4 separate regions of the Homo sapiens genome follow, and regions 1, 3 and 4 are each reported to be linked to region 2. The links are microRNA targets in miRTarBase. Many come from high-throughput screens and were not tested one by one. Region 2 holds a microRNA gene; each other region holds the end of a gene's coding sequence.
Evidence for each region. The annotated mature microRNA hsa-miR-146a-5p reads UGAGAACUGAAUUCCAUGGGUU and lies in region 2 at 4,802-4,823, opposite strand. An mRNA with a match to its seed (bases 2 to 7 or 8) in the 3' UTR can be bound and repressed. Matches are read on the target gene's strand: a 7mer-m8 pairs with bases 2 to 8, a 7mer-A1 pairs with bases 2 to 7 and ends in A, and an 8mer does both.

Region 1 (7,127 bases), not on the chromosome of region 2:
CACACATGGGGGCCCGTCGTGGGGTGGGAGGAGCGGGGAGGGATAGTATTAGCAGATATACCTAATGTAAATGACGAGTTAATGCGTGCAGCACACCAACATGGCACATGTATACATATGTAACAAACCTGCACATTGTGCACATTCACCCTAGAACTTCAAGTATAATTAAAAAAAAAAAAAGAAAAGAGGTTTAATTGATTCACTCTTCTGCATGTCTGAGGAGGGCTCAGGAAACTTACAATTATGGCTGAAGGGGAAGAGTCATAACTTAACATGGTGGCAGGCAATAGAGATAAAGAGAGGGAGAGAGAGAAAAAAGGGAGACGAGAGAGAGAGAGATTGAGGATTACAATTCAAGATAAGATTTTTTTGGGGACACAGCCAAACCATATCAAGTGATAAATTAATAGATGCAGGTTACCTTGGTAGATATACCTTTAAGATGATCTTCAATATTGGGTAGATATTTGAAATTGTGGAGATGTTAGAAATAGAATTATAAACTGAGTAAATCAATTTAGGTTTAATCATGAGTTTTATCTTTAAAATTTGGGCTTGATTTAAAGTGCCAAAGAGATATTCCATCCAATTAGTATGGGAAAATGGCTAGTGGTTCAGAAACTTTTTAAAAGGAGTTAGTTTCAGAGTTTAAAAATTTGTTTTTTCCAGGTCATTAAATTTGACGGTGGAGAGGAAGTACTTATTTCAGGGGAATTCAACGACCTGAGAAAGGTAATGCTTTTGTGTGTATAATGTAATATCAGCAGCTAGGATACTAAGCTTTAAAAACATGTAAAAAGGACATTAAATTGACATCTTTTTTGTGTTAGGTCACCAAGGAGCAGTGGGACACCATAGAAGAACTCATCAGGAAGACAAAAGGTTCCTAAGACCACTTTGGCCTTCATCTTGGTTACAGAAAAGGGAATAGAAATGAAACAAATTATCTCTCATCTTTTGACTATTTCAAGTCTAATAAATTCTTAATTAACAAACATTCATTGAATATGTATTATGTGCCAGGCCAGTGATAGCCATTGTATATTCAAAGATAAATAAAATGAAATATAGTCCTTCAAAACATTAAAAAAAAAAAAAGGAGGCATGGGGAGAGTAGGTAAAGGCTCCTCTTTACCTATTGATAGAGGTAAAAAGTACTTAGAAGTGCAGAGAGAACAGATCTTTGTGACTTGGAAAATCAGGAGAAACTCAATGGTGGCGGTAGCATTTGAGTTACATAATATACTATACCTATATTAATAGGGCCTAAAAGAAAGAAATTAGAGGATACACACTAAATATAATAGACTTTGCCTTTCCAGTATACTTTCTTTTCACTGGACTTGTGAATTATCTTCTTTGGGTAACTCAGTATTAACTCAAACCTTTAATTTTTACTAGGACCTATTTGTAGCCAGGCATTTTATTTAGTACTGAATAAGCTATAGCCGTTGCCCTTTTTAAATTCATTATCTAGCAAGATAGTCAAACTTATAAATAATTATTTATGATACATTGTGATAAGTATTATTCCAGCAGTATTTAAGTGTAGAGGAGGAAGTAATTCATTCTGTCTCCAGAGTTTGGAGAATGTGATGCCTAAGAGATAGCATGCCATCCCAGCTGTAAAAGAAGAATAGATTTCTCTGGGTAAAAGAGGTAAAGAAAGCCTATAAAATATTTTTGTATATCATTTGATTAAATTTCATCTTTGGTTTGACTAATTTGTCATCCTGAAAATCAAATAATAATGAATCCAAAGTCTCAAGTCTACAGAGCTATACTTTTGAGCCTATATTTTTAAAATGTCCATTTTGCTTTCCCAGGAGTCAGTTACAACATGTTCACTAGACTGACTATCCCCATTGCCCAAGTTGACACAAGAGGAAACCAGCTTCCATCTTACCTCATCTGAATAAATCTGCCACAAGCCCATGGAAACCCCAATTAACATTGACAGTTAATTGTGTACATAAATTACATTTATTACATTTAATTGTGTATATATAGGGGATGTTATAGGTTTGGAATAAGTGGCCCAACATTTCCAATTATACTGACTTTCACTGGGCTTTTTTTTAGGCTGTTGCACTTTTTCTCCACATGCTTGCAATACAATACTCTCAAAATAAAACGCAGACAGGTACCTAGTCTCCATTTTACCTTTAGTACTAATCCTGTGTATTAGTCTGTTCTCATGCTGCTAATAAAGACATAACCCAAACTGGGTAATTTATAAAAGAAAGAGGTTTCATTGACTCATAGTTCAGCATGGCTAGGGAGGCCTCACAATCATGGCAGAAGGTGAGTGAGGAGCAAAGTCATGTCTTACGTGGTGGCACCCAAGAGAGCTTGTGCAGGGGAACTCCCATTTATAAAACCATCAGATCTCGTGAGACTTATTCACTATCACACTATTGTGTTGATATTGTGTTCACACACCAATAATGATGGTTTATCACTCACTCCATTTCCAAACCCACCTTCCCACCCACCTCTCACCAAACACACAAAGACACACTCTTTCCCTCCACTGATTCCACCAGTATAGCCATATTTCTCTTTCTGGTTAAATTTATACTAAATGTTTACATTTATATAACTTAATAAATATTATTTTTTTCCAGTGTTGTCTCAACCTTTTTTAAAAAAAAAATTCAGATTACATGATAAATCAGGTCCTTTTTTAGATAAATATTATTTTTAGTGTTCTATTGTTTTGATGTATCATTATTTAATTTATTGGGAATAGGGTTATTTATATTTATTGTTTTTATCTTTTTAAATTTTTATAGAGACAATGTCTTGCTATCTTTATCAGTCTGGTCTTGAACTTCAGATCTCAAGTGATCCTCCTGCGTTGGCCTCCCAAAGTGCTGGGGTTACAGGCATGAGCCACTGAGCCTGGCTGTTGAAAATTTTTTGTTTTTTAATGTTTTTCAAGAATGCTAATGCCTCCCTTGCCAATGCATTTTAAAATTATTATTAATATTACTTTTGATTGGCAAATCATAATTGAATTCATTTATGGGGTGCCCTGTACATTTAAGGGGTACAGTGTGATGTTTTGATATGTGTATACAATGTGGAATGATTAAATCAAGCTAATTAACATATCTATCACCTCTCTTACCTATTGGCCTTTATGGAGAGACATTTGAAATTTACTTTTATTAGTTATTTTTAAATATACAGTACATTATTATTGACTATAGTCACCCTGCAGTAGATCTTAAAACCTGTTCTTTCTATCTGAAATTTTGTATGCTTTGATCAGAAACCCCCTTCTTCCCACTCCCTCAACCTCTAGTAAACCATCGGTCTACTTTCTTTTCTTTTCTTTTTTTTTTTTTTTTGATATGGTGTCTCACTCTTGTTGCCCAAACTGGAGTGCAGTGGCATGATCTTGGCTCACCGCAGCCTCCACCTCCCGGGTTCAAGCGATTCTCCTGCCTCAGCCTCCTGAGTAGCTGGGATTATAGGTGCACGTCACCATGCCCGGCTAATTTTTCGTAGTTTTAGTAGAAACAAGGTTTCACCATGTTAGCCAGGCTGGTCTCGAACTCCTGACCTCAGGTGATCCGCCTGCCTAGGCCTCCCAAAGTGCTGGGATTACAGGCGTGAGCCACCGTGCCCGGCCAATCATCATTCTACTTTCTACTTCCATGAGTTCAACTTTATTTGATGCCATACATAAGTGAGATCACAGGTTACTTTTATTTTTCAGTATTATAAATAAAACTATGAACGTTTTTATGTATAACACATTTTTAGAATTTGGAATTTTTTCCTCATTTCTAGAAGTGGTATTATTAATCAAAGTTATGAAGCTTTTAAAGTTTTTTTGATATACATATCCAATTGTTATTCCAAAGATTTGTGTGAGTTTAAACCCCCCTGAGTAATGTGTGACACTGCCCGTTTCAACAAATAGCTGCCAACAATTAAAACTATTCACCAATTTTACACGTAACGAATGATAGTACCGTTAAAAACTTATTTTATTATTAGTGAGATTGAATACTTTTCTACACTTTTGAATTTCCTGTTTGTCTTTTTTACCTGTTGGTATCTTAATGGGGTATTGTAAAATTTTTGGTTTGTATGAGTTTGTATGCAATTTTTTCCTCTGTTAAAGACAAAAATAGTTCTTTTAATAGTTTCTTAGTCATCTATTACATCATTATTATGTGTTATTACAAATGGTTGATGAGAAAGCAAAGCTTGCAGCATGGCAGAGAGGATCAGAGAAGAGAGATCATGGAGATATTGACTAACAGATATTTTTTCCTGAGTCTGAAAGAGAAACAAACATTGTTTATGGGTAATCACTGTATTCTATGACAGACCACATGTGGGCTGTAACCACATCAATGTTCACCTTAAGAATTATTACTTTGTCACTCAATACCTTCTGTAAGAGTCCTGCTTCTATTGTACTAGTGGAAGAGTTAATACTCAGTAAATTAAAGATTATTGGTAACAATATCACTCATCTTACCATTAACATGTGAAACCACCTCCAGGAAATGTTTCAGGTATAGAGTGACAGCCATTGTTTCCTTATTGTTCTTGTGGAAACTAAAACAATAAGAATTTAATGACTTTGAATAATAGAATTTTAGAGCTAGAAAAGCCTTAGAAAATGCAAATTCTCAATGTTTTTATTTTACAGTTGAGGAAACTGCAGACCTAGAAAGTTATGTGACTTGCCCTAGGTCACACAGTAAGTCAAGCTCATGTCTCTCACCCAGTTAGATATTTCTTGGGATCATAACTCAAATCAAGAGCCAATAACAGGGTTTTTAGGAGGTAACAGTTAGACATTACAAAAGCCTAGAAGAGGAGAAAGCCCATCAATTTTTTTAGCTTGTTAGTTGAAGTATGACTTCTAAAAATGCACAAATCATGAATTATTACAATACAAATGCACTCAGGTAACCATTCTCCAGGTCAAGAAACAGAACATTACCAGGAACCCAGAAGCCTCCCTTCTGCCCACCATCGCGATTCCTTTCCTCCTTCTCACAACTAACCACTGTCTTGACTTCTAACCCCATCGTTAAGCTGTTTTGAGATTTATATAAATAGAATCACACAATATGTATTCTTCTGTTTTTTGGCTTTCTTTCTGTGTAATAATTGCTTATGCATTCTCATTGTTATATTCCATAGAATATAAGGTATATATGAATATACCACCATTTATTTGTTAGCTCTGCTCTTAGTGGACATTTGGATTGTTTCTAGTTTGAGGCTATGCCAAACATAAAGCTGCCGTGAACCTTCTATTCTTTTGGCGAAAATATATACACCTTTCTCTGTTAGATTGGTAATACCTAGAAGTGAAATTGCTGGGTTTTAGGGTATGCTTGTGTTCAAATTTAGTAGATACTGTCAAATGGCTTCCAAGACTATTCACAATTTAACATCCCACCAAGCTGTTTGGGAACTTACACTGTGCTGCATCCTCACCAGTAGTGAGCATTGAAATTCTCTTTACTTTGAGTCATTCTGTGAGTGTGTGGTGGCATCTCATTTGTTTTAATTTGCTTTTTTTTTTTTTTTTTTTTTTTGAGAGAGGGTCTCACTCCTGTTGCTTAGGCTGGAGTGCAGTGACACGATCTCCATTCACTACAGCTTTGACTTCCTGGGCTTGGGTGATTCTCCCACCTGAGCCTCCCTAGTAGCTGGGACTACAGGTGCATGCTACCATGCCTAGCTAACTTTTTGTAGAGACAGCCTTTCGCCATGTTGCCAGGCTGGTCTCAAACTCCTGGGCTCAAGTGATCCTCCTGCCTCAGCCTCTCAAAATGCTGGGATTACAGGCATGAGCCACTGCATCTGGCCATTTGCATTTCTCCTGATTACTAATAAAGTTGATTAATTTGCATATGTTATTGGACATCATTTGGGTATCCTCTAGTGAAATATTTGTTCAACTTTCTTTTTTTTTTTTTTTTTTTTTTTTTTTTTTTGAGACGGAGTCTCGCTCTGTCGCCCAGGCTGGAGTGCAGTGGCGGGATCTCGGCTCACTGCAAGCTCCGCCTCCCGGGTTCACGCCATTCTCCTGCCTCAGCCTCCCAAGTAGCTGGGACGACAGGCGCCCGCCACTACGCCCGGCTAATTTTTTTGTATTTTTAGTAGAGACGGGGTTTCACCGTTTTAGCCGGGATGGTCTCGATCTCCTGACCTCGTGATCCGCCCGCCTCGGCCTCCCAAAGTGCTGGGATTACAGGCGTGAGCCACCGCGCCCGGCCTCAACTTTCTTATACATTTTTCTATTGGGTTATATTTTTAAATGTTGGTTTCTAGGAGTAATCTTAATATATTTTGGATATGTGCCTTTGTCAAGTATATGTGTTGCAAATATCTTCTCCCACTCTGAAATTTGACTTTTCACTCTCTTAATAGTTTTTTTTTAAAGTTTGTAGTCATTTTCTGAACAGAAATTCTTAATTTTAATGGAGCCCAATTTTTCAATTTGTTTCTTCATAATTGGATGTGAAGAAGTATTTTCATGCATGAGGTATTGAAGTTATTCTCCTGTGTTGTTTACATATGTTTCACATTTATGTTGATAATAAACTTGGAATGAATTTTGTTTGTGGTATGAGATAGGCATTGTGCCTGTAATTTTATATTTGCCTATCTAGATTCATTTTTTTCATTCTTCACCCTCTTCTCTGCTCAAGGAAGCAGACCTGTCATTTATAGGTAAGTGTGACTGATGTAGCTGAGGTGTAGGAATTTCTTTGTCTGATAGTGCTCAGGAATTAAAGTCTACCATGATAGTCCTGATGCTAGATTCATGTCAGTTATTCCTGACAGCCCTCTAGGAAGTCTCTTCAGAAATTTCCCTATCATAATTTGTTGTTGTTGTTGTTGTTTTTCTTTCTTTGCTCATGCTGTTACTGTAAGAATGCCAAACCTGGTAGAGTTTTGGCGCATACTTGGTAGTGAACAGTTATTTTTCTATGAATTAAATATAGGAAAATTCTGTATGTCCCTGTTATTCCTTTGGATATCTTTCATGAAGAAATATTTGACTGTGGGCCAGGCGCAGTGGCTTACGCCTGTAATCCCAGCACTTTGGGAGGGGAAGGCAGGTAGATCATGAGGTC
Region 2 (7,127 bases):
GCTGACCAAAGGCACAGGTGGAGGAATAAGTCAGAGTGGGCCTCAATGCATGCTCTTCTGTTTTCAGTCACACTGCAGAAACAGAGGCAAAAGATTTTTTTTCTTTCCTTCCTTCTAAGTTCATGTATATTTGTATACATTTTTTAAGTAAAAATGATCTTTTTGCTATAGGGATTTTGGTTTTGAGGCTCCACGTCACCAGTTACCAGCTATATGGCACGGGGCACAGATACGTTGCAAAATCTTTTGAAAATTCCACTTTCCTATCTCTAAAATTAGGATTATGAAAAGAGCTATGGCCAGGCACAGTGGCTCACGCCTGTAATCCCAGGACTTTGGGAGGCTAAGGCAGCCAGATCACTTGAGGTCAGGAGTTCGAGACCAGCCTGGCCAACATAGCGAAACCCTGTCTAGTAAAAAATACAAAAATTAGCCAGGCGTGGTGGTGGGCACCTGTAATCTCAGCTACTCGGGAGGCTGAGGCAGGGAGAATTGCTTGAACCCAGGAGGCGGAGGTTGCAGTGAGCTGAGACCACACCACTGCACTGCAGCCTGGGTGACAGAGCAAGACTCTGTCTCAAAGAGAAAAAAAAAAAGAAGAGCTATTTCACGGAAGAATGTGGTGTTCAGCAAATATACTAATGTGTGTTAAAGTGCTTTACAAATTGTAAATCCTAACACAGTACAAACTTTAGTGAAAGGAACATAGGTTCTTACTGTGCAGTCCTGATTAACATCCTAGCTGTGACACTTAACATGTTGTGTGTGAAATTTAAGCAAATTATGTAACCTCCCTGAGCCTCAGTTTTCAGATATAGAAAATAGAGAAATCTTTCATTATTACAAGATACCTTGTGTATCTTGTAAATATCCAATAAAGTTGTAATTATATTTTCTGCACTTTCCCAGGAATAATCAAAATTAACTCTTCTACTTGGAAGGGCTTCCGCAGGAGATAGGAGCAGAACATCCTTAAAAAACTGTTGTGAAATCACCTTAGTGCTAAGAAGAGCAAAGAGGAACTAGACAAGATGGCTTGTACCCTGGTTTCCTGCCCCCAGAGCATTTTTCCAGACTCTCTGACCACCTGGACACCCAAACTGGGAGCTGCCTCTCTGAAATATTATTAGAAAAGAGGGCAAGAGTCTAGATGTGAGAAAATATGAAAAAAAGAAATTTCCATTTTAACTAACAAAGGTTTGACTGCTGGCAGGACTTAGGAAACCACTGTGTCCCTAAATCAGTGAATCCCAGCAACCTAGCACAAGGGAAAGGCAGACTGTGAGGTAGTGTGTCCAACTTTCCACCTCATCCCATTAATGTGAGCTGATAAATCATGACCTTCCTTTGTTATCAGAGGATGGCAAATCAATACTTCCATTATCATTATTATTACTCCCAAGGCACCTCTCTAGCAGCATGTGAGCTATTCTCTCCCAAGCACAGAGCCGAAAGGATGGCTAATCTGCTTCTGAGACCCCATCAATCACAACAGGAAGAGAAAGGATGAATTGGGAAGAAGAAACATAATAGTACGGAGGGGGAAAACAGCATTTGAAAAAGCCTGGAATAGTTGCTCTAAGTGTCGTCCTAGGACCTCCTTGATGACATTCAGTGAGTGATGGTTAAAATGACAGATACTTTGGAAATGCCTAGTCTGTGGGTCAGGGGCATGACCTGCCTTAATTGACAACTTCTTCAAGCGGTTTTATGCACCTAAAGTTTGCACATTAAAAACCTAGAAATCTACTATTCACCGGTGGAAATATCACTTGTAACCATCTTGAAGTTTTGGGGTCCTGCTGTTCATCTCTCAGAAATAAGTTTTGCGGAATACTTGCATGCATACTTGTAGGAGTGGGCCAGCATCTTTCATGTCAATGTCAGCTATATTTCAGTTCCAGGGGAATGCAGATGTCCCTTGATTGACCCTATCAGTACTAAAACTTTAGTGTGCATAAAAGTCAGCCAAAGGGTTGGTAAAACAGAAATTGCTGGGCCCTACCCCTAGAGTTTTCTATTCAGGAGGTCTTGAGTGGGGCCTGAAAATTTACATTTCTAAAAAGTTCACAGGTTGGTTAGCTAATCCAAAAGTCATTCCCAGGCCAAGCGTGGTGGCTCATGCCTGTAATCCCAACACTTTGGGAGGCCAAGGTGGGCGAATCACCTGCAGTCAGGAGTTTAAGACCAGCTTGGCCAACATGGTGAAATCCCGTCTCTACTAAAAATATAAAAATTACCCAGGCATGGTAGCAGGCGCCTGTAATCCCAGCTACTTGGGAGGCTGAGGCAAGAGAATTGCTTGAACCCAGGAGGCGGAGGTTGCAGTGAGCCAAGATCATGCCACTGCACTCCAGCCTGGGTGACAGAGTGACTCAAAAAAAAAAAAAAAAAAGTCACAGGTGATACTGATGCTGCTGCTCCAAGAAACACATTTAAAAACCACTGGCACACATGGATGGATTTTTGGAGAGAGTTCTTTTTTTATTTAGGCAGAAAAGCATGATTAAGGGAGAGGGGAAAAAAATCACTTGCAATCTTAACACCCACTACCCACTGGATATCCATACACTTACACGGATACACACACACTTCTCCTCGTGCAAAAAAAAAAAGAATCACACTACATATTACCCTGTGCCTATCTTCTTCATGGGACAACAAATCAGGGCTCTCTCTCCACTCCTCCATGACCCACCTCTATGGCATACTGTCTAATAAATGCACAGCATGAGTACTGTCTGGACTCATCACAATTGGGTGTTATATTGTCTTCAATAACTTTATTGTTGTAACCAAACATGTTCTGTGTTAAGTCAAACAATAGAGAAAAATACAACCAAAAAGAAAAACACATCTCAAATCCCACCACGTCAGAGATAACCATTGTTAGCAAATTGATGTACATCTTTCAACACACGTATTCCTACATACATTTATTATTTTACATAAACTGAATCATAGACACCAAGTTATTTTGCAACATGCTTTTTCCACTTACATAAACCAAGTTTTGGTAAAGCAAATACAACCTCAAAAATCTTTGAGAAATGTACTATCTAATGGAATCTTAACACAAATTCTCTATGAAATGAAGCATTCTTTTATACAGTGAATTTCTGCCTACTCCTCACAGATACACTAGGTTAATTTTTTAATGTGTGTGTGTATCTGTGAATTCCATATTTCATTTATTAGGTTTGCTTTAGGAAGAGTGCCCCTGAAATAAAAATGAGCCTTTTGTACTAAATCGGAGTTCTGAGCCAAAGTCAGTGTCCACAGCACAGAGGAGCTGAAACCCAGAGCATTTGGAGCTTCTAGTATATATTCTGGATTTTCTCCATCAGTCTAGGACTGAAGACACCGATCTCTGGTGTCGGTTGAGATTTCACCAAGGTTCTGGTTCTGGAATGAGTCACTGGCTAAGGGTCTGATAAGCAAAGGGCGGAAGTGGGCAGAGTGTGAGAAGGGTGGGGGAGGTCCTTGATCTGATCAGTACAACCCAGAGAACACACCCATGTCCCACACGCTTGCGAGGGGGCCTTCATAATAACCAAGCACCCCTTTCCATCTGTAGAACATGGTTACGTGTTTTTCAATTTGCCATCCTGTTGTTAATTTGTCCCCGTTTTCCAGATGAGGCTTGGTGAGATTCACTGAGATCATGCATACAAAGAAAGCCCTGAGCACAGTGCTTGGCACATAGTGGGCACTCAGTAAACCTCGGTGTCACTGAGAAGACAGAATGAGAATGAGCATGCTGTGGAGTCTTTCACCTGCCTCTCCTCTGGGACAGGTTACTCTTTCATTCTGTAGACTGTAATGACATGGAAATTCCAAGATACCAAGAGACAATGATGAATCAAAGATGAGTTCCCAAAAGACAAATCACATCCCTTATTCCCCATCAAATCTAAAGCCTAATAAAGTCCATATAGCACTCATGAGGCCTCTAACCTTCTGCCTAAAAGTGATCATCATCACAGCAAACCTGAGCCTCAGAAAGGACCTAGCTTACTTGGTGACAGAGGAGGGCAACAGAAGGACTTGGCCCATGGCACCCAGCTGACCATGTCAGCAAATAGAGAGGCCTTCAAAGCCTTTGCATTCCTGTTCCCTGGAGAAACTGAGGATTGCAGTAAAGTGTAATTACAACCTCTTTTTGCCTTGTTTGAAATACAAAGGGACAATGTAGCCCTAATATATTTATAGAAGGAAGTAGAGATCAAATAAAGGAAGAGGGGGACCAAAAGAAGGGCATATCCATGTTTCTCATCTTCTTTCACTGCAGATCTTAAAAAGGAACCAGAAGCCTCAGCAGTCCCTGCTAAAGAATCATTGTCACATTCTATTAGTTCCCTCTGATCCCGTGAAGAGGGGGGAAAAATCATTGCATGGCAATGCCATGTGTCTCAAGCTTCATTAAAGTGATTTCTCCCAAGAGTCTCGTATAACAGCATGTAAAGCACTTACAACAGTACCTGAATCATCGTAAGTAATCAATAAATGTAAACGAGTAGCAGCAGCAGCAAGAGAGACTTGCTGAGATCATTCATTTAGCTACTTGGAACCCTGCTTAGCATAGAATTCAAGTCTTTTCACAATCAAATGAGTGTTTCTCACAGGAACTCACACTCCTTATACCTTCAGAGCCTGAGACTCTGCCTTCTGTCTCCAGTCTTCCAAGCTCTTCAGCAGACTGAAAAAGTTCTTCAGGATCTACTCTCTCCAGGTCCTCAAGCCCACGATGACAGAGATATCCCAGCTGAAGAACTGAATTTCAGAGGTCTGACACTGACACAACCCATGGAATTCAGTTCTCAAAGCTGAGGATACACATCGGCTTTTCAGAGATGGTGCAAAGACCCCTCCTTGCAGTCCAGGCCTGTCCCAGCCCTGTAAAATACAAGAGTGAAAAGCCTGGTAAATCCAATGCAGCTGCTTCCTAGTACCAGGTCTAGTCCTGGCACTCATGAGTTATAAACATCTGGAGGAGACCAGGCCAGCAGTCTGGAAGGCTGATGTGGGTGGATCTCTTGAGCCCAGGAGTTCAGGACTAGCCTGGGCAACATGGAGAATTTGTCTCTACTAAAAATAAAAAATGAGCCATGCATGATGGCCTGTGGTGGGAGGATCGCTTGAGCCTGGGAATTGGAGGTTGCAGTGAGCTATGATTGCACCACTGCACTCCAGTCTGGGCCACAGAGAGAGACCCTGTCAAAACAAAAACTAATCTGTAGGGGATGTGTATGGTAGACACACACATCATTAAGCATCATTAAACATGGTAGCTGGCCTTTCCTGCCTCATGACCCTTCCATATGCCATCCCTCTGGCCTGGAAAACTCGTTCCTCTCTTTAACATCAACTTATCCTGATGTTCTTGCTTTCAATGTCACTTCCTCAGAGAGGCCATCTATGGCAGAGATTGCTGATTGTTTGCCCAATATATATTCTCTCCTCCTTCTATACTAATAGAACCCTTAAGTGGTATCTGAACACATGGACATCTGACTTTGTTTCCTCACCTGGTGTGACAAAGTGCTGGATATGAGCAGGAGTGGAGAGTTTTTTACTGTTTCCCTCCCTCTTCTCAGGCTTGGACTGTAGACATGGTAGAGAGCCACTGTGGACCATGCAAATGAGTGCAGCCCCCCAGGGAACAGCAGAGCAGCATGCCAGAAGAGCCCCAAAAGTGTGAGGCTTCCTTATACACCCTAGACTGCTTACACCTGCACTGATAGATCAGCAAGAATGGAACATTTACCTTATTTAAGCCACTGTTACTTGGGGATCTCTGTAAGAGCACTTGAATGTTTACCTACCACTCCCTCACCATCAGCCTCCAGCTAGTCTCTTTCATAATATGGGATTCTTTCCTTCACCGTAATTTGTAATTGTTAGATAATTTTGTATAATTATTTGATTAAAATTATCTCTCCAACAAGACTGTTTTCCATAAGCATAGAGACCATGCTAGTGTTTTTTAAATATGTATATAGGCGAGATGTGGTGACTCACACCTGTAATCTCGGAACTTTGGGAGGCTGAGGCAGGCAGATCACCTGAGGTCAGGAGTTCAAGTTTCACTTGGCTAACATGGTGAAACCCCGTCTCTAACAAAAATACAAAAATTCGCCAGGCATGGTGGCGCACACCTGTAGTCCCAGCTACTTGGGAGGCTGAGGCAGAAGAATCACTTGAACCCAGGAGGCAGAGGTTGCAGTGAGCTAAGATTGCACAACTGCACTCCAGGCTGGGTGACAAAGCGAGACTCTGTCTCTAAAAAATAATAATAAAATAAAATAAGTATATAATAGCCTTATTGAGCTATAGCTATATAGCTCACACACCAGAAAATTTACCTATTTAAAGTAAAAAATGCATTGGTTTTTAGTATTTTGCAGAGTTGTACAACCATCATAATCAATTCCAGAACATTTTCATCATCCCCAAAATAGATCCCATAACCATTAACAGTCAATCTCCATTCCCCTCCCTCACCCCTGGGGAATCACTGATCTACGTTCTGTCTATATATATGCTGGACATCTTATATAAATGAAATCATATAATCAGCGGCCTTTTGTGACTGGCTTCTTTCACTTAGCTTTCAGGATATATCCATGTTTTAATGCGTATCAGTACATCCTTCCTATGGATGAATAATATTCCATCGTTAGGATCTACCACATTTCATTTATCCATTCATCAGCTGATGGGCATTTGGGTTGTTGCTACCTTTTGCCTATTTGATGCTTCTATGAATGAATACCCATGTACAAGTTTTGTATGGACATATGTTTGCATTTCTCATGGATGTGTGAACCCAAAAGTATCTGAGACAGACCTGAATCCATTTAGGAAGTTTATTTTGCCAAGGTTAAGAACATGCCTGTCACACAGCCTCAGAAGGTCCTGACAACATTGTGCCCAAGGTGGTCGGGGCACAGCTTGGTTTTATACATTATAGGGAAACATGAGACATCAATCAGTATATGTAAGATGTACATTGGTTCAGTCTGGAGAGCTGGGACAACTAGAAGCAGGGGTGGGGGCTTCCAGATCATAGGTAGATACAAGACAAACTGTTGCATTTTTTTGTCTCTGGTTAGCCTTTTACTGAA
Region 3 (7,112 bases), not on the chromosome of region 2:
TTAGGTCTGCCCCACATTTTTTTGGTGGAGCCTCAGAGGCCACCGCTCTTTTCTCTTTCTGGTTGCTGATCTATGCTCTTTCAATGTGACTAGAAGAGCAGATTCAGCTACATAGGTCTTTGGGACTTACGTGTTTGCATCTTTGGGGGAATGTTATCAGAAATTTGGATCTAATATGCAATATCCATCTACACTCTGGATTAAAATAATCACATTGGATTAGTCAAACACGAGTCACTGTGGTATTTAGAATAAAATAGATAAGTCAAAGAGTCTGCATTGAAATAACGTTGAAGTTCAACTTGCAATGTTTTAGAGAATGCATGCTTTCTGGATGTTTTGAGCGGAGAATATAATTATGCTTCAGTAAGTGAGCTACTAAATTGAAGAAGTATAAAAAACTACCTTATGAAATTGTGAAGTAGAAAACAATCTTTTCTTTAATGTCTACAAATAGGTTTTTAAGGTCCTTTTTGCATGCTCAGTACAGGTCAATATCAGAATTGCTCATTATAGTTCTTTGCCTCTGCCTTGCTCCACTGACAAAGCTGAATCCCATGGAAACTTGGCCATTATGCTATAATTGCAATCAAACAGGATTTGGAGCAATTGTTACTAGAAACTTGAAAAACTGGGGGTGGCAGAGGAGAAAAGGCTATGCCAGGAACCAGGACAAATACTTTGATTCACAGTTAGGCCATATCATTGCCATGGGCAAGGGATGAAAAGATTGTTTGACTAAAGAAGACCTGCATCAAAGGGAGTATCTACAGGGTTATTGAAAAACGCATAGGTGATGGGAAATTGGTCTTGACACTTTTTTTATTTATAAAAATTTATGAATGCCTTTTTTATGATCTTGTGAGGTGAATAATGAGGGAATTGTTCTGAGACTTTTATACCTATGTCTGAGACACTATCTGATGGACATTATTCATTGTACATTTTTCTGTTCTCCCTGCTCTATCCTCCTACTTCCAATTTTTGGAACATTTTTAAACCTTGAGAAAAGTTAAAAGAATAATATGCTTTTCCCCATAGTTTCTTCTCTTTCTGTATACCTTTTTTCTGACTTCTTACTAATTTTTTTCCCCTGATGACAGCCTACCGTTGAATTTTTTTTTAACACTGTAGAAACAGCCTTTATTGGTTGCAACATGGATTGGAAGAGGAGGGTGTATGATAGCTCCCACTCCTGGGGCAGCACCCACAGACTCAGTCGCCACTTTCCAAAAAGCTAAAAAGAAATCTTATTGTGTATATTTAAGGTATACAACATAATGTTATGGGATACATATAGACAGAAAAATGGCTTCTGTAGTGAAGCAAATTAACATACCCATCATCTCCTATAGATAGCCTTTTTTATGTGTGTGGCAAGAGCAGCTAAAATCTACTCATTTAGCAGAAATCCCAAATACTGTACAATTTTATTAATAGTAGTCCTCATGTTGTACACTGGATCTCTAGACTTGCTTATTCCCCATGTCTGCTACTTTGTAACCTCTAACCTACATCTTCACATTTCCTCTCCCAGTCATTATTTTCTGAACCGCTGGAAAGTAAATTACAAAAACCATGGCACTTCATCCCTAAATATTTCATTATACTTCTCTCAAGAGTAAGAACATTCACTTTCATGTACAATGCAATGATCACATCTAAGAAAATTATCAGTAATTTCACAATATCATTTAATATACTGTGTATATTCAGATTGCCACAATTGTCCCCAAAAGGTTTTTTATGGCTGTGTGTCTTTTTCAATCCAGGAGCCAATCAAGGTTCATGTTTTACCTTTTTTTTTTGAGACGGAGTTTCACTCTTGTTGCCCAGGCTGGAGTGCAATGGTGCAATCTCGGCTCACCGCAACCTCCACCTCCTGGGTTCAAGCGATTCTCCTGCCTCAACCTCCCGAGTAGCTGGGATTACAGGCATGTGCCACCACACCTGGCTAATTCTGTATTTTTAGTAGAGAAGGGGTTTCTCCATGTTGGTCAGGCTGGTCGGGTACTCCCAACCTCAGGTGATCTGTCCTTCTCAGCCTCCCAAAGTGCTGGGATTACAGGCATGAGCCACCACGCCCGGCCCATGTTTTACTTTTTATACCTGGTATATTTTTTAATCTATTTTATACCTGGTATATTTTTAATCTAGAATACTATCTCCTCTCTTGCCCTTTTTCTCTCATCAAATTGTCTGTTTTGTAGGATTGGCAGATTTAGAAAATTTAGAAAAGGATGCTCAGTTAACCTGAATGTCAAATAAACAATGAATCATCTTTTAGCATAAAATGTCCCGTGCTCATACTAAAAGCTAATTTGTTATTTATCTGAAAATCAAATTTAACTCAGTATCCTGTATTTTATCTAACAACTCTGCTTTTTAAAAAGTTCAGACTGCCGGGTGCGGTGGCTCATGCCTGTAATCTCAGCTACTGGGGAGGCTGAGGCAGGAGAATCACTTGAACCCGGGGCCGGGGGGAGGTTGCAGTGAGCCGAGATCTCGCCACTTCATGCCAGCCTGGGTGAAAGAGCGAAAATCCGTCTCAAAAGATAAAAAAAAAAAAAAGCTCAGACCAGTTCTATTATAGAGTAGCTCAAATTCTGGATTTGCTTGTTTTCTAGTCATTTGATTTTGTAAACATTTTTTACAAAAATTTCTAGATGATGTTGCATATTTCTTATTGCCTCACACTGGGTGGTACGTATCTACAAGTCTCATTAATTACTGGCTAAAGACGGTGACTGCAAATCTCTCTGGTTGAAAGCACTTTCTTTCTTTTGGAATTATTAAATAATTGTGGAGTAATATTCTGAGAACAGGTGAATACTCTGAGACCAGGTGAGATGTTCTCAATCATCTTCTGCACAATAATTTTAACATTCATTAGTGATCACTTCCTCAATTATTTCCTTGTGGGTTATGAAATAATTTTTTAATGTTAGCATTCCTTCTAGTTTTATTACTAGCTGGCATTCATCTGTAAAGAAGAATTTTCCTTCTTTAATGCTCTTTTGTAGTATCACTATATACTAGTGGAATTTTAAAAATTCAATTTGTTATAATTCGTTACTGTCGTTATTCTGTTATTGCTCAAATTACGCCAGTTTTGGCCAATGGAAGCCCCTTGCAAGTCTGCTCTTTGGTCCCTTGGATATAACCCCATTTTGTCCTTTCGTGCTTGCTTTCATCCTATCATGAAAAAATGTCCCAGGCTCATTTTTGTGCTCTTGTTGTCTAGGAGGAATCAGCCTTTTCCCCTGTCAGTTTTGTGCCTCCCTGCTCCAAATCCATTGTCTCTGCCCTGCTCTGTGATACTGCTGGAGATGGACCCTGTGAACGTGCTTCCTTTGCCAACTGGCACAGTGGCAAGCTTTGTCAGTAGAGGGCACTGGAGGGACACTGCTGTGCACACAGAGCACCTTGTGGCACTCACCCTCCAGCTAGCCTCCTGCTCAGCTGGCCTGCCCCATGGTTTTCCTTCTTTGCTGGCCTCAGTCTGCTGGAACCCCTGTGGGAAGTCTCTTGTTTTCCAACTTGAGCCCACCAGTTGGACCACTGTGGACCAGCTCTGACTCAGGATAACACAGCAGACTTCTCTGCCATCCCTTGGGCTGTGACTGTACCCTTTCCAGTGAAGTCTGAATCTCAGGAGAGGGCCTCTCCTTTTGCAAGTTGTTCCTTATATGGGCACTTTCAGCCCCATGGTATTGTTAATGTTCTCTTATTTCTCTTATTCTCTCTGGTTATTCTCCTCTTTCTAGTTAATAATTCTTTAAATTAAATTTTCCCTGTTCAAATGACTGGTCTCTTTTCTGTCTTCTGAATGAACCCTGACTAATAGAGAAGTGATGCAGGGAATAGTTGTTAAATAGTACCACTATTCAAATAAGTGATTCCAGGAGTAACTTGGTCATGCCCTTGGATTTGAGCACAGTGCCAAGCCCCTTGCCAAGCATGTGGGAACAACACCATCAATCCAGCCATCACCTGCAGGTGAGTGTGAGGAAGTGCCCACTGCAGCAAGTATGCTGGGAGCCTAAGGGGCTGCTGCACCTGACTAATGATATCTACAAGGACTATGGCATGGCATTGTCTTCTCATCATTAGAAGAGGTTTCTCCACACCCAGACTGTGAAGTTACTCACTCATGTATTTATCTAATATCTTTATAGTTTCCTTTTAAATTTATTGATTATTTAAAAAATTGATATGCAATAGTTGTCTGTATTTTGGGGGCACATATGATGTTTTTGTGTGTGCATATAGTGTGTAATGATCCAATGAGCATAACTGAGATATCCATTTCCTCAAACATTTATCTTTGCTTTATGTTGGGAACACTTGAATTCTTGTCTTTTAGGGTTTTTAACAAATGTATATACAGTAAATTATTGATAGTTACCCTACTGTACTGTCAAATGCTAGATCCTATTTCTTCTACCTAACTGTATATTTGTACCCATTAATCAACTTTTCTTCATCTGCCCCTTACCCTCACCCTCCCCAGCCTCTTGTAGAACCACCAATTTACAGTCTATCTCTATGTGATCCACTTTTCTAGCTACCACATATGGGTGAGAACATGCGATATTTGTCTTTTTGTGCCTGTCTTATTTCACTTAATATAATGACCTCCAGTTCCATCCATGTTGCTGCAAATGACAGGATTTAATTTCTTTTTATGGTCAAATAGTACTCCATTGTGTGTATATACCACATTTTCTTTATCTATTCATCATGAGGGACATTTACATTTATTGCACATCTTGGCTATTGTGAATAGTGCTGCCATAAACATTGAAGTTCAGATATCTCTTCCACATATTGATTTGCTTTCTTTTGGTTATATGCTCAGCAGTGGGATTGCTAAATAATATGGTAGTTCTATTTTTGTTTTTTTGAGAAGTCTCCATACAGTTTTTCATAGTGGCTGTACTAATTTACAGTTCTCACCAGTGTACGAGTGTCCTTCTTTCCCCGAATCCTGGCCTGTGTCTGTTATTTTTTGTCTCTTTGATAAAAGCCATTTTAGCTTGGGTGGGATGATATCTCATTGTGGTTGTGATTTGCATTTTCCTGGTGATTAGTGATGTTGAGCATTTTTCTGTATACCTGTTGGCCATTTGCATGTCTTCTTTTGAGAAATGTCTATTCAGATTTGTGCCCATTTTAAATTGGATTATTTGAGTTGTCTTTTTTTTTCTTTTTTTTTTGATATTAAGTTGTTTGAGTTCCTTATGTATTCTGGATTTTAATTCCTTCTTAGATGTATAGTTTGTGCATGTTTTCTCTTGGTATTTTTGACAACATAGGCGAACCTAGAGGATGTTAAGTTAAATAAGCCAAGCACAGAAGGAAGAGTACTGCATGATCTCACTCATATGTGGAATCTAGAAAAGTTGACCTCATAGAAGTAGAGAGTAGAATAGTGATTACCAGCGGCTGGGAGAGTGGGAAGGTGGATGAGGGGAGGTTAGTCAATGGGTACAAAGTTACAGTTAGCTAGGAGGAATAAATTCTAGTATTCTATTGCAAAGTAGCTTGGCTATAGTCAATAATAATGTATTGTATACTTCAAAATAGCTAGAAAAGAGGATTGAATGTTCTCAGCACAAATAAATGACAAGTGTTTCAGGTGATGGATATGATAATTACCCTTTGATAATTATACAATGTATATATGTAACAAAACATCACACCGTACCCCATAAATATGTACACTTATTATGTATCAATTGAAACCAAAATAAACCTTTAAAAACATTATATAGGCAGTAAAAAAGGTTATGTTTTATTAATTGCTGGACAACCGTGGGAAAACAAATAAGCAATTGACACCACCAAATTCTTATTACATTCAAGATAAAAGATTTATTCACACCACAAAAAGATAATCACAACAAAATATACACTAACTTAAAAAACAAAAGATTATAGTGACATAAAATGTTATATTCTCTTTTTAAGTGGGTAAAAGTATTTTGTTTGCTTCTACATAAATTTCTATTCATGAGAGAATAACAAATATTAAAATACAGTGATAGTTTGCATTTCTTCTATAGAATGAACATAGACATAACCCTGAAGCTTTTAGTTTACAGGGAGTTTCCATGAAGCCACAAACTAAACTAATTATCAAACACATTAGTTATTTCCAGACTCAAATAGATACACATTCAACCAATAAACTGAGAAAGAAGCATTTCATGTTCTCTTTCATTTTGCTATAAAGCATTTTTTCTTTTGACTAAATGCAAAGTGAGAAATTGTATTTTTTCTCCTTTTAATTGACCTCAGAAGATGCACTATCTAATTCATGAGAAATACGAAATTTCAGGTGTTTATCTTCTTCCTTACTTTTGGGGTCTACAACCAGCATATCTTCATGGCTGTGAAATTCATGGCTGTGGAATTCACGGCTGACTTTGGAAAGTTCCTGACTATCAATCACATCGGAATGCTCATTGCTCTCATCATTGGCTTTCCGCTTATATAATCTGGACTGCTTGTGGCTGTGGGTTTCAGCACTCTGGTCATCCAGCTGACTCGTTTCATAACTGTCCTTCCCACGGCTGTCCCAATCAGAAGGCGCGTTCAGGTCCTGGGCAACGGGGATGGCCTTGTATGCACCATTCAACTCCTCGCTTTCCATGTGTGAGGTGATGTCCTCGTCTGTAGCATCAGGGTACTGAATCACGGCACAAATGAAGAATAATTATATGAACGGCTAGGGATGGGAATATGGTAATCCTTTTCCACTCTCTAGCTTTTAGGTCATCTTATACTAAAAATTGTCTAAATCTGGCTGAAATAATACTAGCATGTTACTTTGTATAGTACTTTACCAAGGCCTTTCACATATGTCATCTCATTTAGTTTAATAACTACATCACTTACATATGTAATGAAACCTATGAGGTAGGTTTCATTATATTGAAACCTACATAAAGAGGAAGTGAATTGTTAGTTAAAAAGTAAAGAGAATAGTAAACGGCAAGGCTATGTCAAATCCAGATTCTGTGACTAAGGATTCAGTGTAATTTGCAACTACAATTCCTCTTAGGTATTTAACTTCAAAACATGACCATTATTTTTTTTAAATAATT
Region 4 (7,127 bases), not on the chromosome of region 2:
TTGAGTTACAAAGAGTGAGAAGACATGATCCCAGTCAAGTGAGATAGTGGGGGAAGAGTAATATAATAAAGAATTATAATGGAGCACAGTTGTTATCCCTGTTTGAGAAATAAATGGCCGTTAAATGCATGTTGTGCTGAAAATAGCATGTTCTATGAAAGATCTTTACAATGACTTCTGTAAATTGAGCTGTACATTTTTTTTTTGAATTTAGTTGCAGGGGCCCTGGATGTTTCCTTTAACAAGTTTATTCCCTTATCAGGTATGTATTTTCATATGCACATTTTTTAATGTCTCATTGTTCCTAATTTCTTTTTTGTAGTATATATGTATATGTGTGTGTGAGTGTGTGTATCTATTTCTTACCTTGTAAACAGAGGTTAAATTTCATAAATGCGTAGTAATACATCTGGTTACAAGAGTGAAACTGGGCTCCCCCAGAGCTTGCCTTGAGGCGGTGCCCTCCTCTGGGCCAGCTGCAGAGCCTTCTTATTCTCATGTCAGGGAGGCCTGCCAGAGCTGTTCACCAGTACTGTTATTCAGAAGGCGTCCCCAGGCTGACGTGTAGTAATTTAAATGTTGGAATGTAAATTCCTTGAGGTTCTTTGTGGGTTTTCTTTTTTTTTTTTTTTTTTTTGGTTTGTTGACAATTTAATATTCTTCAGTGATGTCTGGGGCATGGGAAGCACTCTATTTCTTGAATTTAATGTTGCATGGGTAAGGATGTTTTCAAGAAGAGCTGTGATCTTTTAAAAGACATGTTGCATGATAAAAGTGTCTTTAACCTTTACATAGAATACTTCAGTAACAACAACATGAGACATGCCTTTACTAGCAGTTAGGTAAAACCATACTCATAAAAGTTGCAACTTCTTGGCTTGCTTTTCAAAAATGTCCAAGCCTCTATGATGTAAGATTTTGTCTAAAACCAGGACAAATCTAAGAAAGTTAACTTACTGTTAAAAATTGAAGGCATTAGGGGAGGTAGGTGTTGGGGCCAAAGCTTTGTTACTGTGGTATGTAACATGAAGTGTGTTTGTTTCTTTAACATACAGAGCCTGCTCCAGTTCCCCCAATACCCAATGAACAGCAGTTAGCCAGACTGACGGATTATGTGGCTTTCCTTGAAAACTGATTTATCACTCTGAGTTCAAGATTCATCTTCAGAATCCTGTATACTGACAAACGTAGAAATGTAAAGTTTGTATTTTCAATTTATTGGATGGCTTAAGCACCTCAGCATTCCTTACTATGTGATAAAATACATATAGAATATAAGATATACTATATACATTTTGTCCATAAACGTTATGCTGAATAGTTGTTGAAACAGTTCTCATTTTGTAGTATTTAATAATCTGGATGGAGCCTGTCAGTATTACAGTTAGTTTTCTAGTGACTCATAAAATAAGATTTCCTGTTTCATGTAGAATAGTGTTTGTCAACTGTCTTTTCTCTGTCCCAGCACATGCCGTACTCTTATATGTACCATTGGTTGATAATTATAATGATTCATTTGGACTTGAAGAAAGATTGTCCCCAGGCACAGTATCTGAATCACTGGGGATTATGATTCACCCTCTTTGGAGAACATGCTCTCTTTTCACCCCCCACCTCCTGAGAGCCACTAATGTAAGATACAGAAACATAGCTGAGGAACAAATAGACCATTTCCATACTAAACCAGTTTGTTAACTTTAGATTTTTTCCAATAGTGTGAGTATATCCATTGCTGGCAGTGGAGGGCTTGCCATGAAAATGCAACTTATTTAAGACATTTATGAGACATATTAACTTGTGCTGTCGCCTTTTAGAAGGAGAAACTTAAGTGTGGAATGCATTATATGGGCAAAGAAGCTATGAAGATACATGATACACTTTGTACAACTATCCTGCAGCCCATTGGTTGCTTATATTTATCGCTTGGCTCAAGTTCTGCCCTTTGGAGAAATACTGAGCAAGTCTTTCATTCTCTGTGTGACAGCCCTCTGAATATTTGAAGTTGTTTGTTGTAACTTAAGGTTATAACAGCCCTTAGTTCATTTACTCTGCATTTGTTCAATAAATATTTAACTGAATTCTTCAATTATTTCATCTAAGATAGTTTCTGGAAATTTCACTCTCGATCTTTCTGTGGACACAATCTATTTTGTCATTGTGTCTATATGAATCTCTTAAGTAGAAATGAGTTGTATGGTGAATCTGTGTAGTGATAATTATATAATTTATTTATTTTGAATGCATTTTAGTGGCTATTTCAGTTTTTCTTAACATATATGGGAATACTTTTTGAATTGCAATTTTATTTAACCCGGATAGGTAAGTCATATTAAAATTCCTTGTTTTACAGTTGAGGAAATGGGAATTCAAGAAGTCAGAGGATCAGGAGAGTGATCAAGAGAATGACAGTGCCAGTTTTTTTAACTTCCAGGTATTAAGTACAAATTGTATCCATGGTTATTTTTTAAAAGCAGATTAGAGTCAATCCAAATATTCATTAATAGGGGATTGTTTGAATAAACAGCAGTGTAGACTACGCAGGTGTAAAAGGAGTGAAGATCTCTATACTAAACTGGAATGATCTCCAGAGTGAGAACATAGAAAGCACATGTAGTTTATATGGTTATTTTGAGGGTAACAAAAGGAGAATGATTACAATTATATATATGTACATATTTCCTTATATTTCAAAACTAAGCAATTGGGGGATATATACAAAATGAATATAATAGTTCCCTAAAGAGGAAGGAGAGGACAGTGAACTACTACATAGAGAAAAAATAATCTCAAGTGATCAAACACAATATTTCAATTTTACATTGTCAGTGGGATATACACTAAGGACAGAAAAAAATCTTAGACTAATGAATGTGGTTTTTCATGATTAATTTCACAAAATCTTGATATCTTTTTTATTATTAAAAGTATAGATTAAATTAATAATCATGTAACATTAGACCCCAGTAATCTTAAATTTGACATGGAAACCTCATTATATGCTTTATTTTTCTTTGTAAACAGTAAATATTTCCCACTCCTGTCTACATGAAAAGGTCTAGAGTAATTACAGTTCAGTAACAATGAGCACCACTAGTACCCAGATGGTGTTCTTTCATTTTCATTTGCAATTAAAAGGAATCAGAACTTATTTGCAAAACAGCTAATAGTTCCAGGGCAGTAAGTGTACAAGTTCATATCTGGTACAAGATGTCCAGGATTCAAGGAGGCTCTTAAAGACTTGGGATTCTGTCAAAGGGTTATACAAGCCAACTTGAAGGGATTTCTACAGGCCATGTAAAAATGAGACAGTTTGAGCATGAAATATTTGTATATGTGTCTGTTTTTAACTCTTAATAACCTCATCACTGTACAAGAAAGGCAGGGTAAGTGCTTGATTTCACTTCCCTTTATTATCAGTTCTCAGGACAAATTGATATGCTGCCAATCTCTAAAGCAACAAAATCGAACCTGTAGGGTAGTCAAAAAGCTCATGCTGGAAAATTCCACCGAATAAAGATAAAAGTTAGAAAAACGGTACTTGCAGCCCTTAATGAAACAAAGAAGGGATCATGGAAATATATATCAATGCTGTTGAGACCACAGGGTAAGAAATTGAGATTGAGCATGAAATATGTCCAGTACATCCATCAGCCTGTCTTTGTGCTCTGGCTATTTCTGAGCCAGCCATCTGTGTACAAGTGTAGCCTGACAGCACCCTGTTTCAGATCCATTGGATATCTCTAAAATTTGCTCTGGGACTTACCCTGGCACTACTATCAGGATGCCCACACAAACCTGATTGGGCAGCCCATCAGCAGTTGTGAACATGACATGGTGAATAAACACTCTCTTCCTTGTCTCAGGGCAGACTATTTCCAATGTGTTCTATACCTAGATCCTCAAAAAGAACCCCCAAAAAATTGAGCTGTGGTGTCCCATGGTCATAAGCTCTCTAATGCAGCCTTCAATTGTTTTTTCCTCATTCCTTGTTTTACTTTTCCTGGTTCCCTGTCTCTTGTTCCCGGAGATCAATAGAAGTGATCTGTCTACATATCTTTACATACCTATGCTATTCTGCCTTGGGGCGGGGATCGGGGACCTAGTCAAATCAAAGGGAAGTGTGTAACACATGAATCAGACTGAAAGCACCTGAATTTAATTTTATATATATAAGTATATATATATATGTGTATATATATATATATATATATATAATACGTATATGCATATATATAGTATATAAATATATACATATATACATGTACATATATATATATTTAAAGGTTTAGATCTGCTACTTTACATAAAATGTGAGAATTAATGGAACAAGTTAAACATCCCACTAAGAAACAGCCAGTTCCAGAATGTGGGAAATTTAACAGGATTAGTGAGTTTGCTTGAAAAATAAATGACAAAAAGTCAGGGGGTGGTAGTAAGTATGAAAATGTCTGTTCCTGGGTTGAAGTACCTTGAGGCCAACTCAGAATTGTGTCAATAACTAATAGGTGAATACCCACATTTATCCCTTGAGAGGCATCAGCCCCTAAATCAATGAGGAATGTGGAGCTAAGATTTGAGAGTACTGCAATGAGGTCATCTGCAGCAGCTCTTTGCAGGGTCGGTGGCAGGTGTTTGCTGATTCCACAGGGCACAGCAAGATTCAAGCTTTGCCTGGTGAGGGGCCTGCTGCTGAATAACCTAACAACCTGTGGAATTTGGGCACTTTGAAAGGGCTGGGGTGATAACAATGGAGACTTGAGAGGGCTAAACCACACTGTTTACCCTTCAAAACATTTGGTGAACTTTTAAGCTGCCTAGGGTAGGAGACCAAAAAGCAAGTCAAAAACCTTTGAGAAACAGTTCCGTTTTCCTGGAGTTTTGCTATGTCAGCGCTCCATTAAACAAGGTTGTTGGGTGGGGGAAGGTGTTTGCTTATAAATATAAACCAGAAGTAGAATATTAGTAAAACTGCTCCTGGAAGACAGGTCAATATAAAATATTAAGCTGAAGTACAGAAATGAAACAGTGGAACTTAACTGGCAATTGTGTTGGAGACATGTGGTACACAGCATAGCGATCTACCATTTATCTAATTGGAATCCAAGGAAGAGCGAGAATATAGAGTGGAAAAATAGAAGTACCAGCCCAGAATTTTCTGAAAGTGATGAAAGAAATCAATCCACAGATTCAAAAAGCTCAGAAAACCCCCACAGAGGATAAATGCAAAGAAAACCACACCCAGACAACAGTAGTAAAACTACTGAAAACCAGAGACAAAGAGAATATATTAAAAGCACAGAGGGAGGACCCGGGGGGACATTATCTTCAAAGAAGTAGTGGTAAAGCCAGACAGTGAAATGGCATTTTTAACATGTTGAAAGAAAAATAAAATCCTAACTGCTATATACAAAAGATCCTCTTTTAATATTTCTGTGTTCTTACATTTAAAAGTTGGAAAAAGATATACCATTGCAAATACTAACCAAAAGAAAGTTGGTGCACCTTTGATAGTAAGAGTTGGCCCTCCATATCTGTGGGTTCTACATCTGTGATTCAATCAACTGTGGCTCAAAAATATTTGAAATTTTTCTAAAAAAATACAGCATAACAATTATACATTGCATTGTATTAGGTATTAAATCTAAAGTATACGAGAGAATGTGTATAGGTTATTTGCAAATACTATGTTATATAAAGGACTCTGATCTACAGATTTTGTATACTTGGCAGTCTTGAAGCCAAGTATATCCCCTGTGAATATCGAAGGGTGATTGTATTAGGCAAAGTAGACCTCAAGGCAAGAAGCATTATTAGAGATAGAAAGTAATTTTTAATGAAAAAGATTGCATATAGTTTCCTTCTGTAACAAATTACTGCAAACTTAATGGCTTAAAACAACACAGATGTATTATCTTACAGTTCTGCAGTCCACAAATCTGAAATGGGTCTCACTGGGCTTATGTCAATAGGGCTGCATATTTTTCTGTAGGCTCTAGGGGACAAGCTGTTACCTTGCCCTTTCCAGCTTCTAGAGGCCGCCCGCATTTCTTGGCTCATGCCCCTCTTTCTCCACCTTCAAAGCCAGCAACATTGGGTAGAGTTATTTTCACACTGCTCGATCTCTGGTTCTCTCTTCTGCCTCCTTTTTTCCACTTTGAAGGACCCTTGTAATTATATTGGGCCCACCTGGAAACTCAGGATACTCAGTCTATTTTGAGGTGAGCTGATTAGCAATCTAGTTCTGTCTGCTATCTTAATTTCCTTTTCCCATATAACCTGAGATTCTACGGATTCAAATATAGACATTTTTGGATGTCCGTTATTCTACAGAGATCAGTCCAAAAGGCAACAGGAATATGTAGCAATTCTAATTTTATATTCAAAATATAATCAAGTGGAAGTTTACCGAACTAAAAGGAGAAAAGAGTCATCTATAATCATACTGGAAGACATAATACACCTCTCATTAGCTGATGGCATGAACAGACAATATCACAAAGAACATAGCAAAGGTGACAGACTTGATCTAATTGGGATACATAAAACACTAACCAACAATGACAAAATATAATTTCATTTTATGCTGTATAAACCATTTACCAAAATTGAACACATAAAGGACCATAAAGCCCTAATACATTACAAAGAGTAGAAATCAAAATGAGTGCATTCTCTGAAAACAGTGGGATTAAGCTAGAAATCAATAAAGCCATAGAGATTACTAGGAAATCTCTAACTGCTTAGGAATTATGTAGTTGTCTGGGCATAGTGGCTCACACCTGTAATCCCAGCACTTTGTGAGGCTGAGGCAGGAAGATCGCTCGAGCCCAGGAATTCAAGACCATCCTGGGCAACATAGACCCCTGTCTCTACAAAAGTATAATTTTAAAAAGTCAGCTGGGCATGGTGGTGCATGTCTGTGGTCCTTGCTACTTGAGAGGCTGAGGCAGGCGGATCGCTTGAGCTTGGGAGGTCAAAGCTGCAGTGGGCCATGATTATGCCGCTGCACTCCAGCCTGGATAACAGAGTAAGACCATCTCTCAAAGAAAGAAATTATGTAGTATACTTCTCAATGACCTGAGAGACATAAAAGAAAACATAAATTAGAAATATTTAAGGACTTCATC

Region 1: the mRNA of DECR1 is a reported target of hsa-miR-146a-5p. Seed matches in the 3' UTR shown: 7mer-A1 at 2,195-2,201.
Region 3: miRTarBase lists SPP1 as a target of hsa-miR-146a-5p. The part of its 3' UTR that is shown has no 7-base or 8-base seed match.
Region 4: the mRNA of COPS8 is a reported target of hsa-miR-146a-5p. Seed matches in the 3' UTR shown: 8mer at 1,332-1,339 and 8mer at 3,416-3,423.

What each region holds. Positions count from the first base shown.
Region 1 is chr8:90,051,005-90,058,131 of GRCh38, forward strand. It overlaps DECR1 (2,4-dienoyl-CoA reductase 1), which reads left to right. Exons shown (of 10, transcript NM_001359.2): 9 at 673-735; 10 at 834-2,629. The coding sequence ends at 893. Among named protein-coding and RNA genes, the nearest start is that of CALB1, 28 kb to the right of the region's middle.
Region 2 is chr5:160,483,068-160,490,194 of GRCh38, reverse strand. It overlaps MIR146A (microRNA 146a), which reads right to left and starts at 4,843; the gene lies at 4,745-4,843. MIR3142HG (MIR3142 host gene) reads right to left here. Exons shown (of 2, transcript NR_132748.1): 2 at 2,769-4,896.
Region 3 is chr4:87,982,074-87,989,185 of GRCh38, reverse strand. SPP1 (secreted phosphoprotein 1) reads right to left here. Exons shown (of 7, transcript NM_001040058.2): 7 at 5,775-6,694. The coding sequence ends at 6,290. Among named protein-coding and RNA genes, the nearest start is that of SPP1, 9.9 kb to the right of the region's middle.
Region 4 is chr2:237,096,608-237,103,734 of GRCh38, forward strand. It overlaps COPS8 (COP9 signalosome subunit 8), which reads left to right. Exons shown (of 8, transcript NM_006710.5): 7 at 215-262; 8 at 1,056-3,867. The coding sequence ends at 1,135. Among named protein-coding and RNA genes, the nearest start is that of COPS8, 14 kb to the left of the region's middle.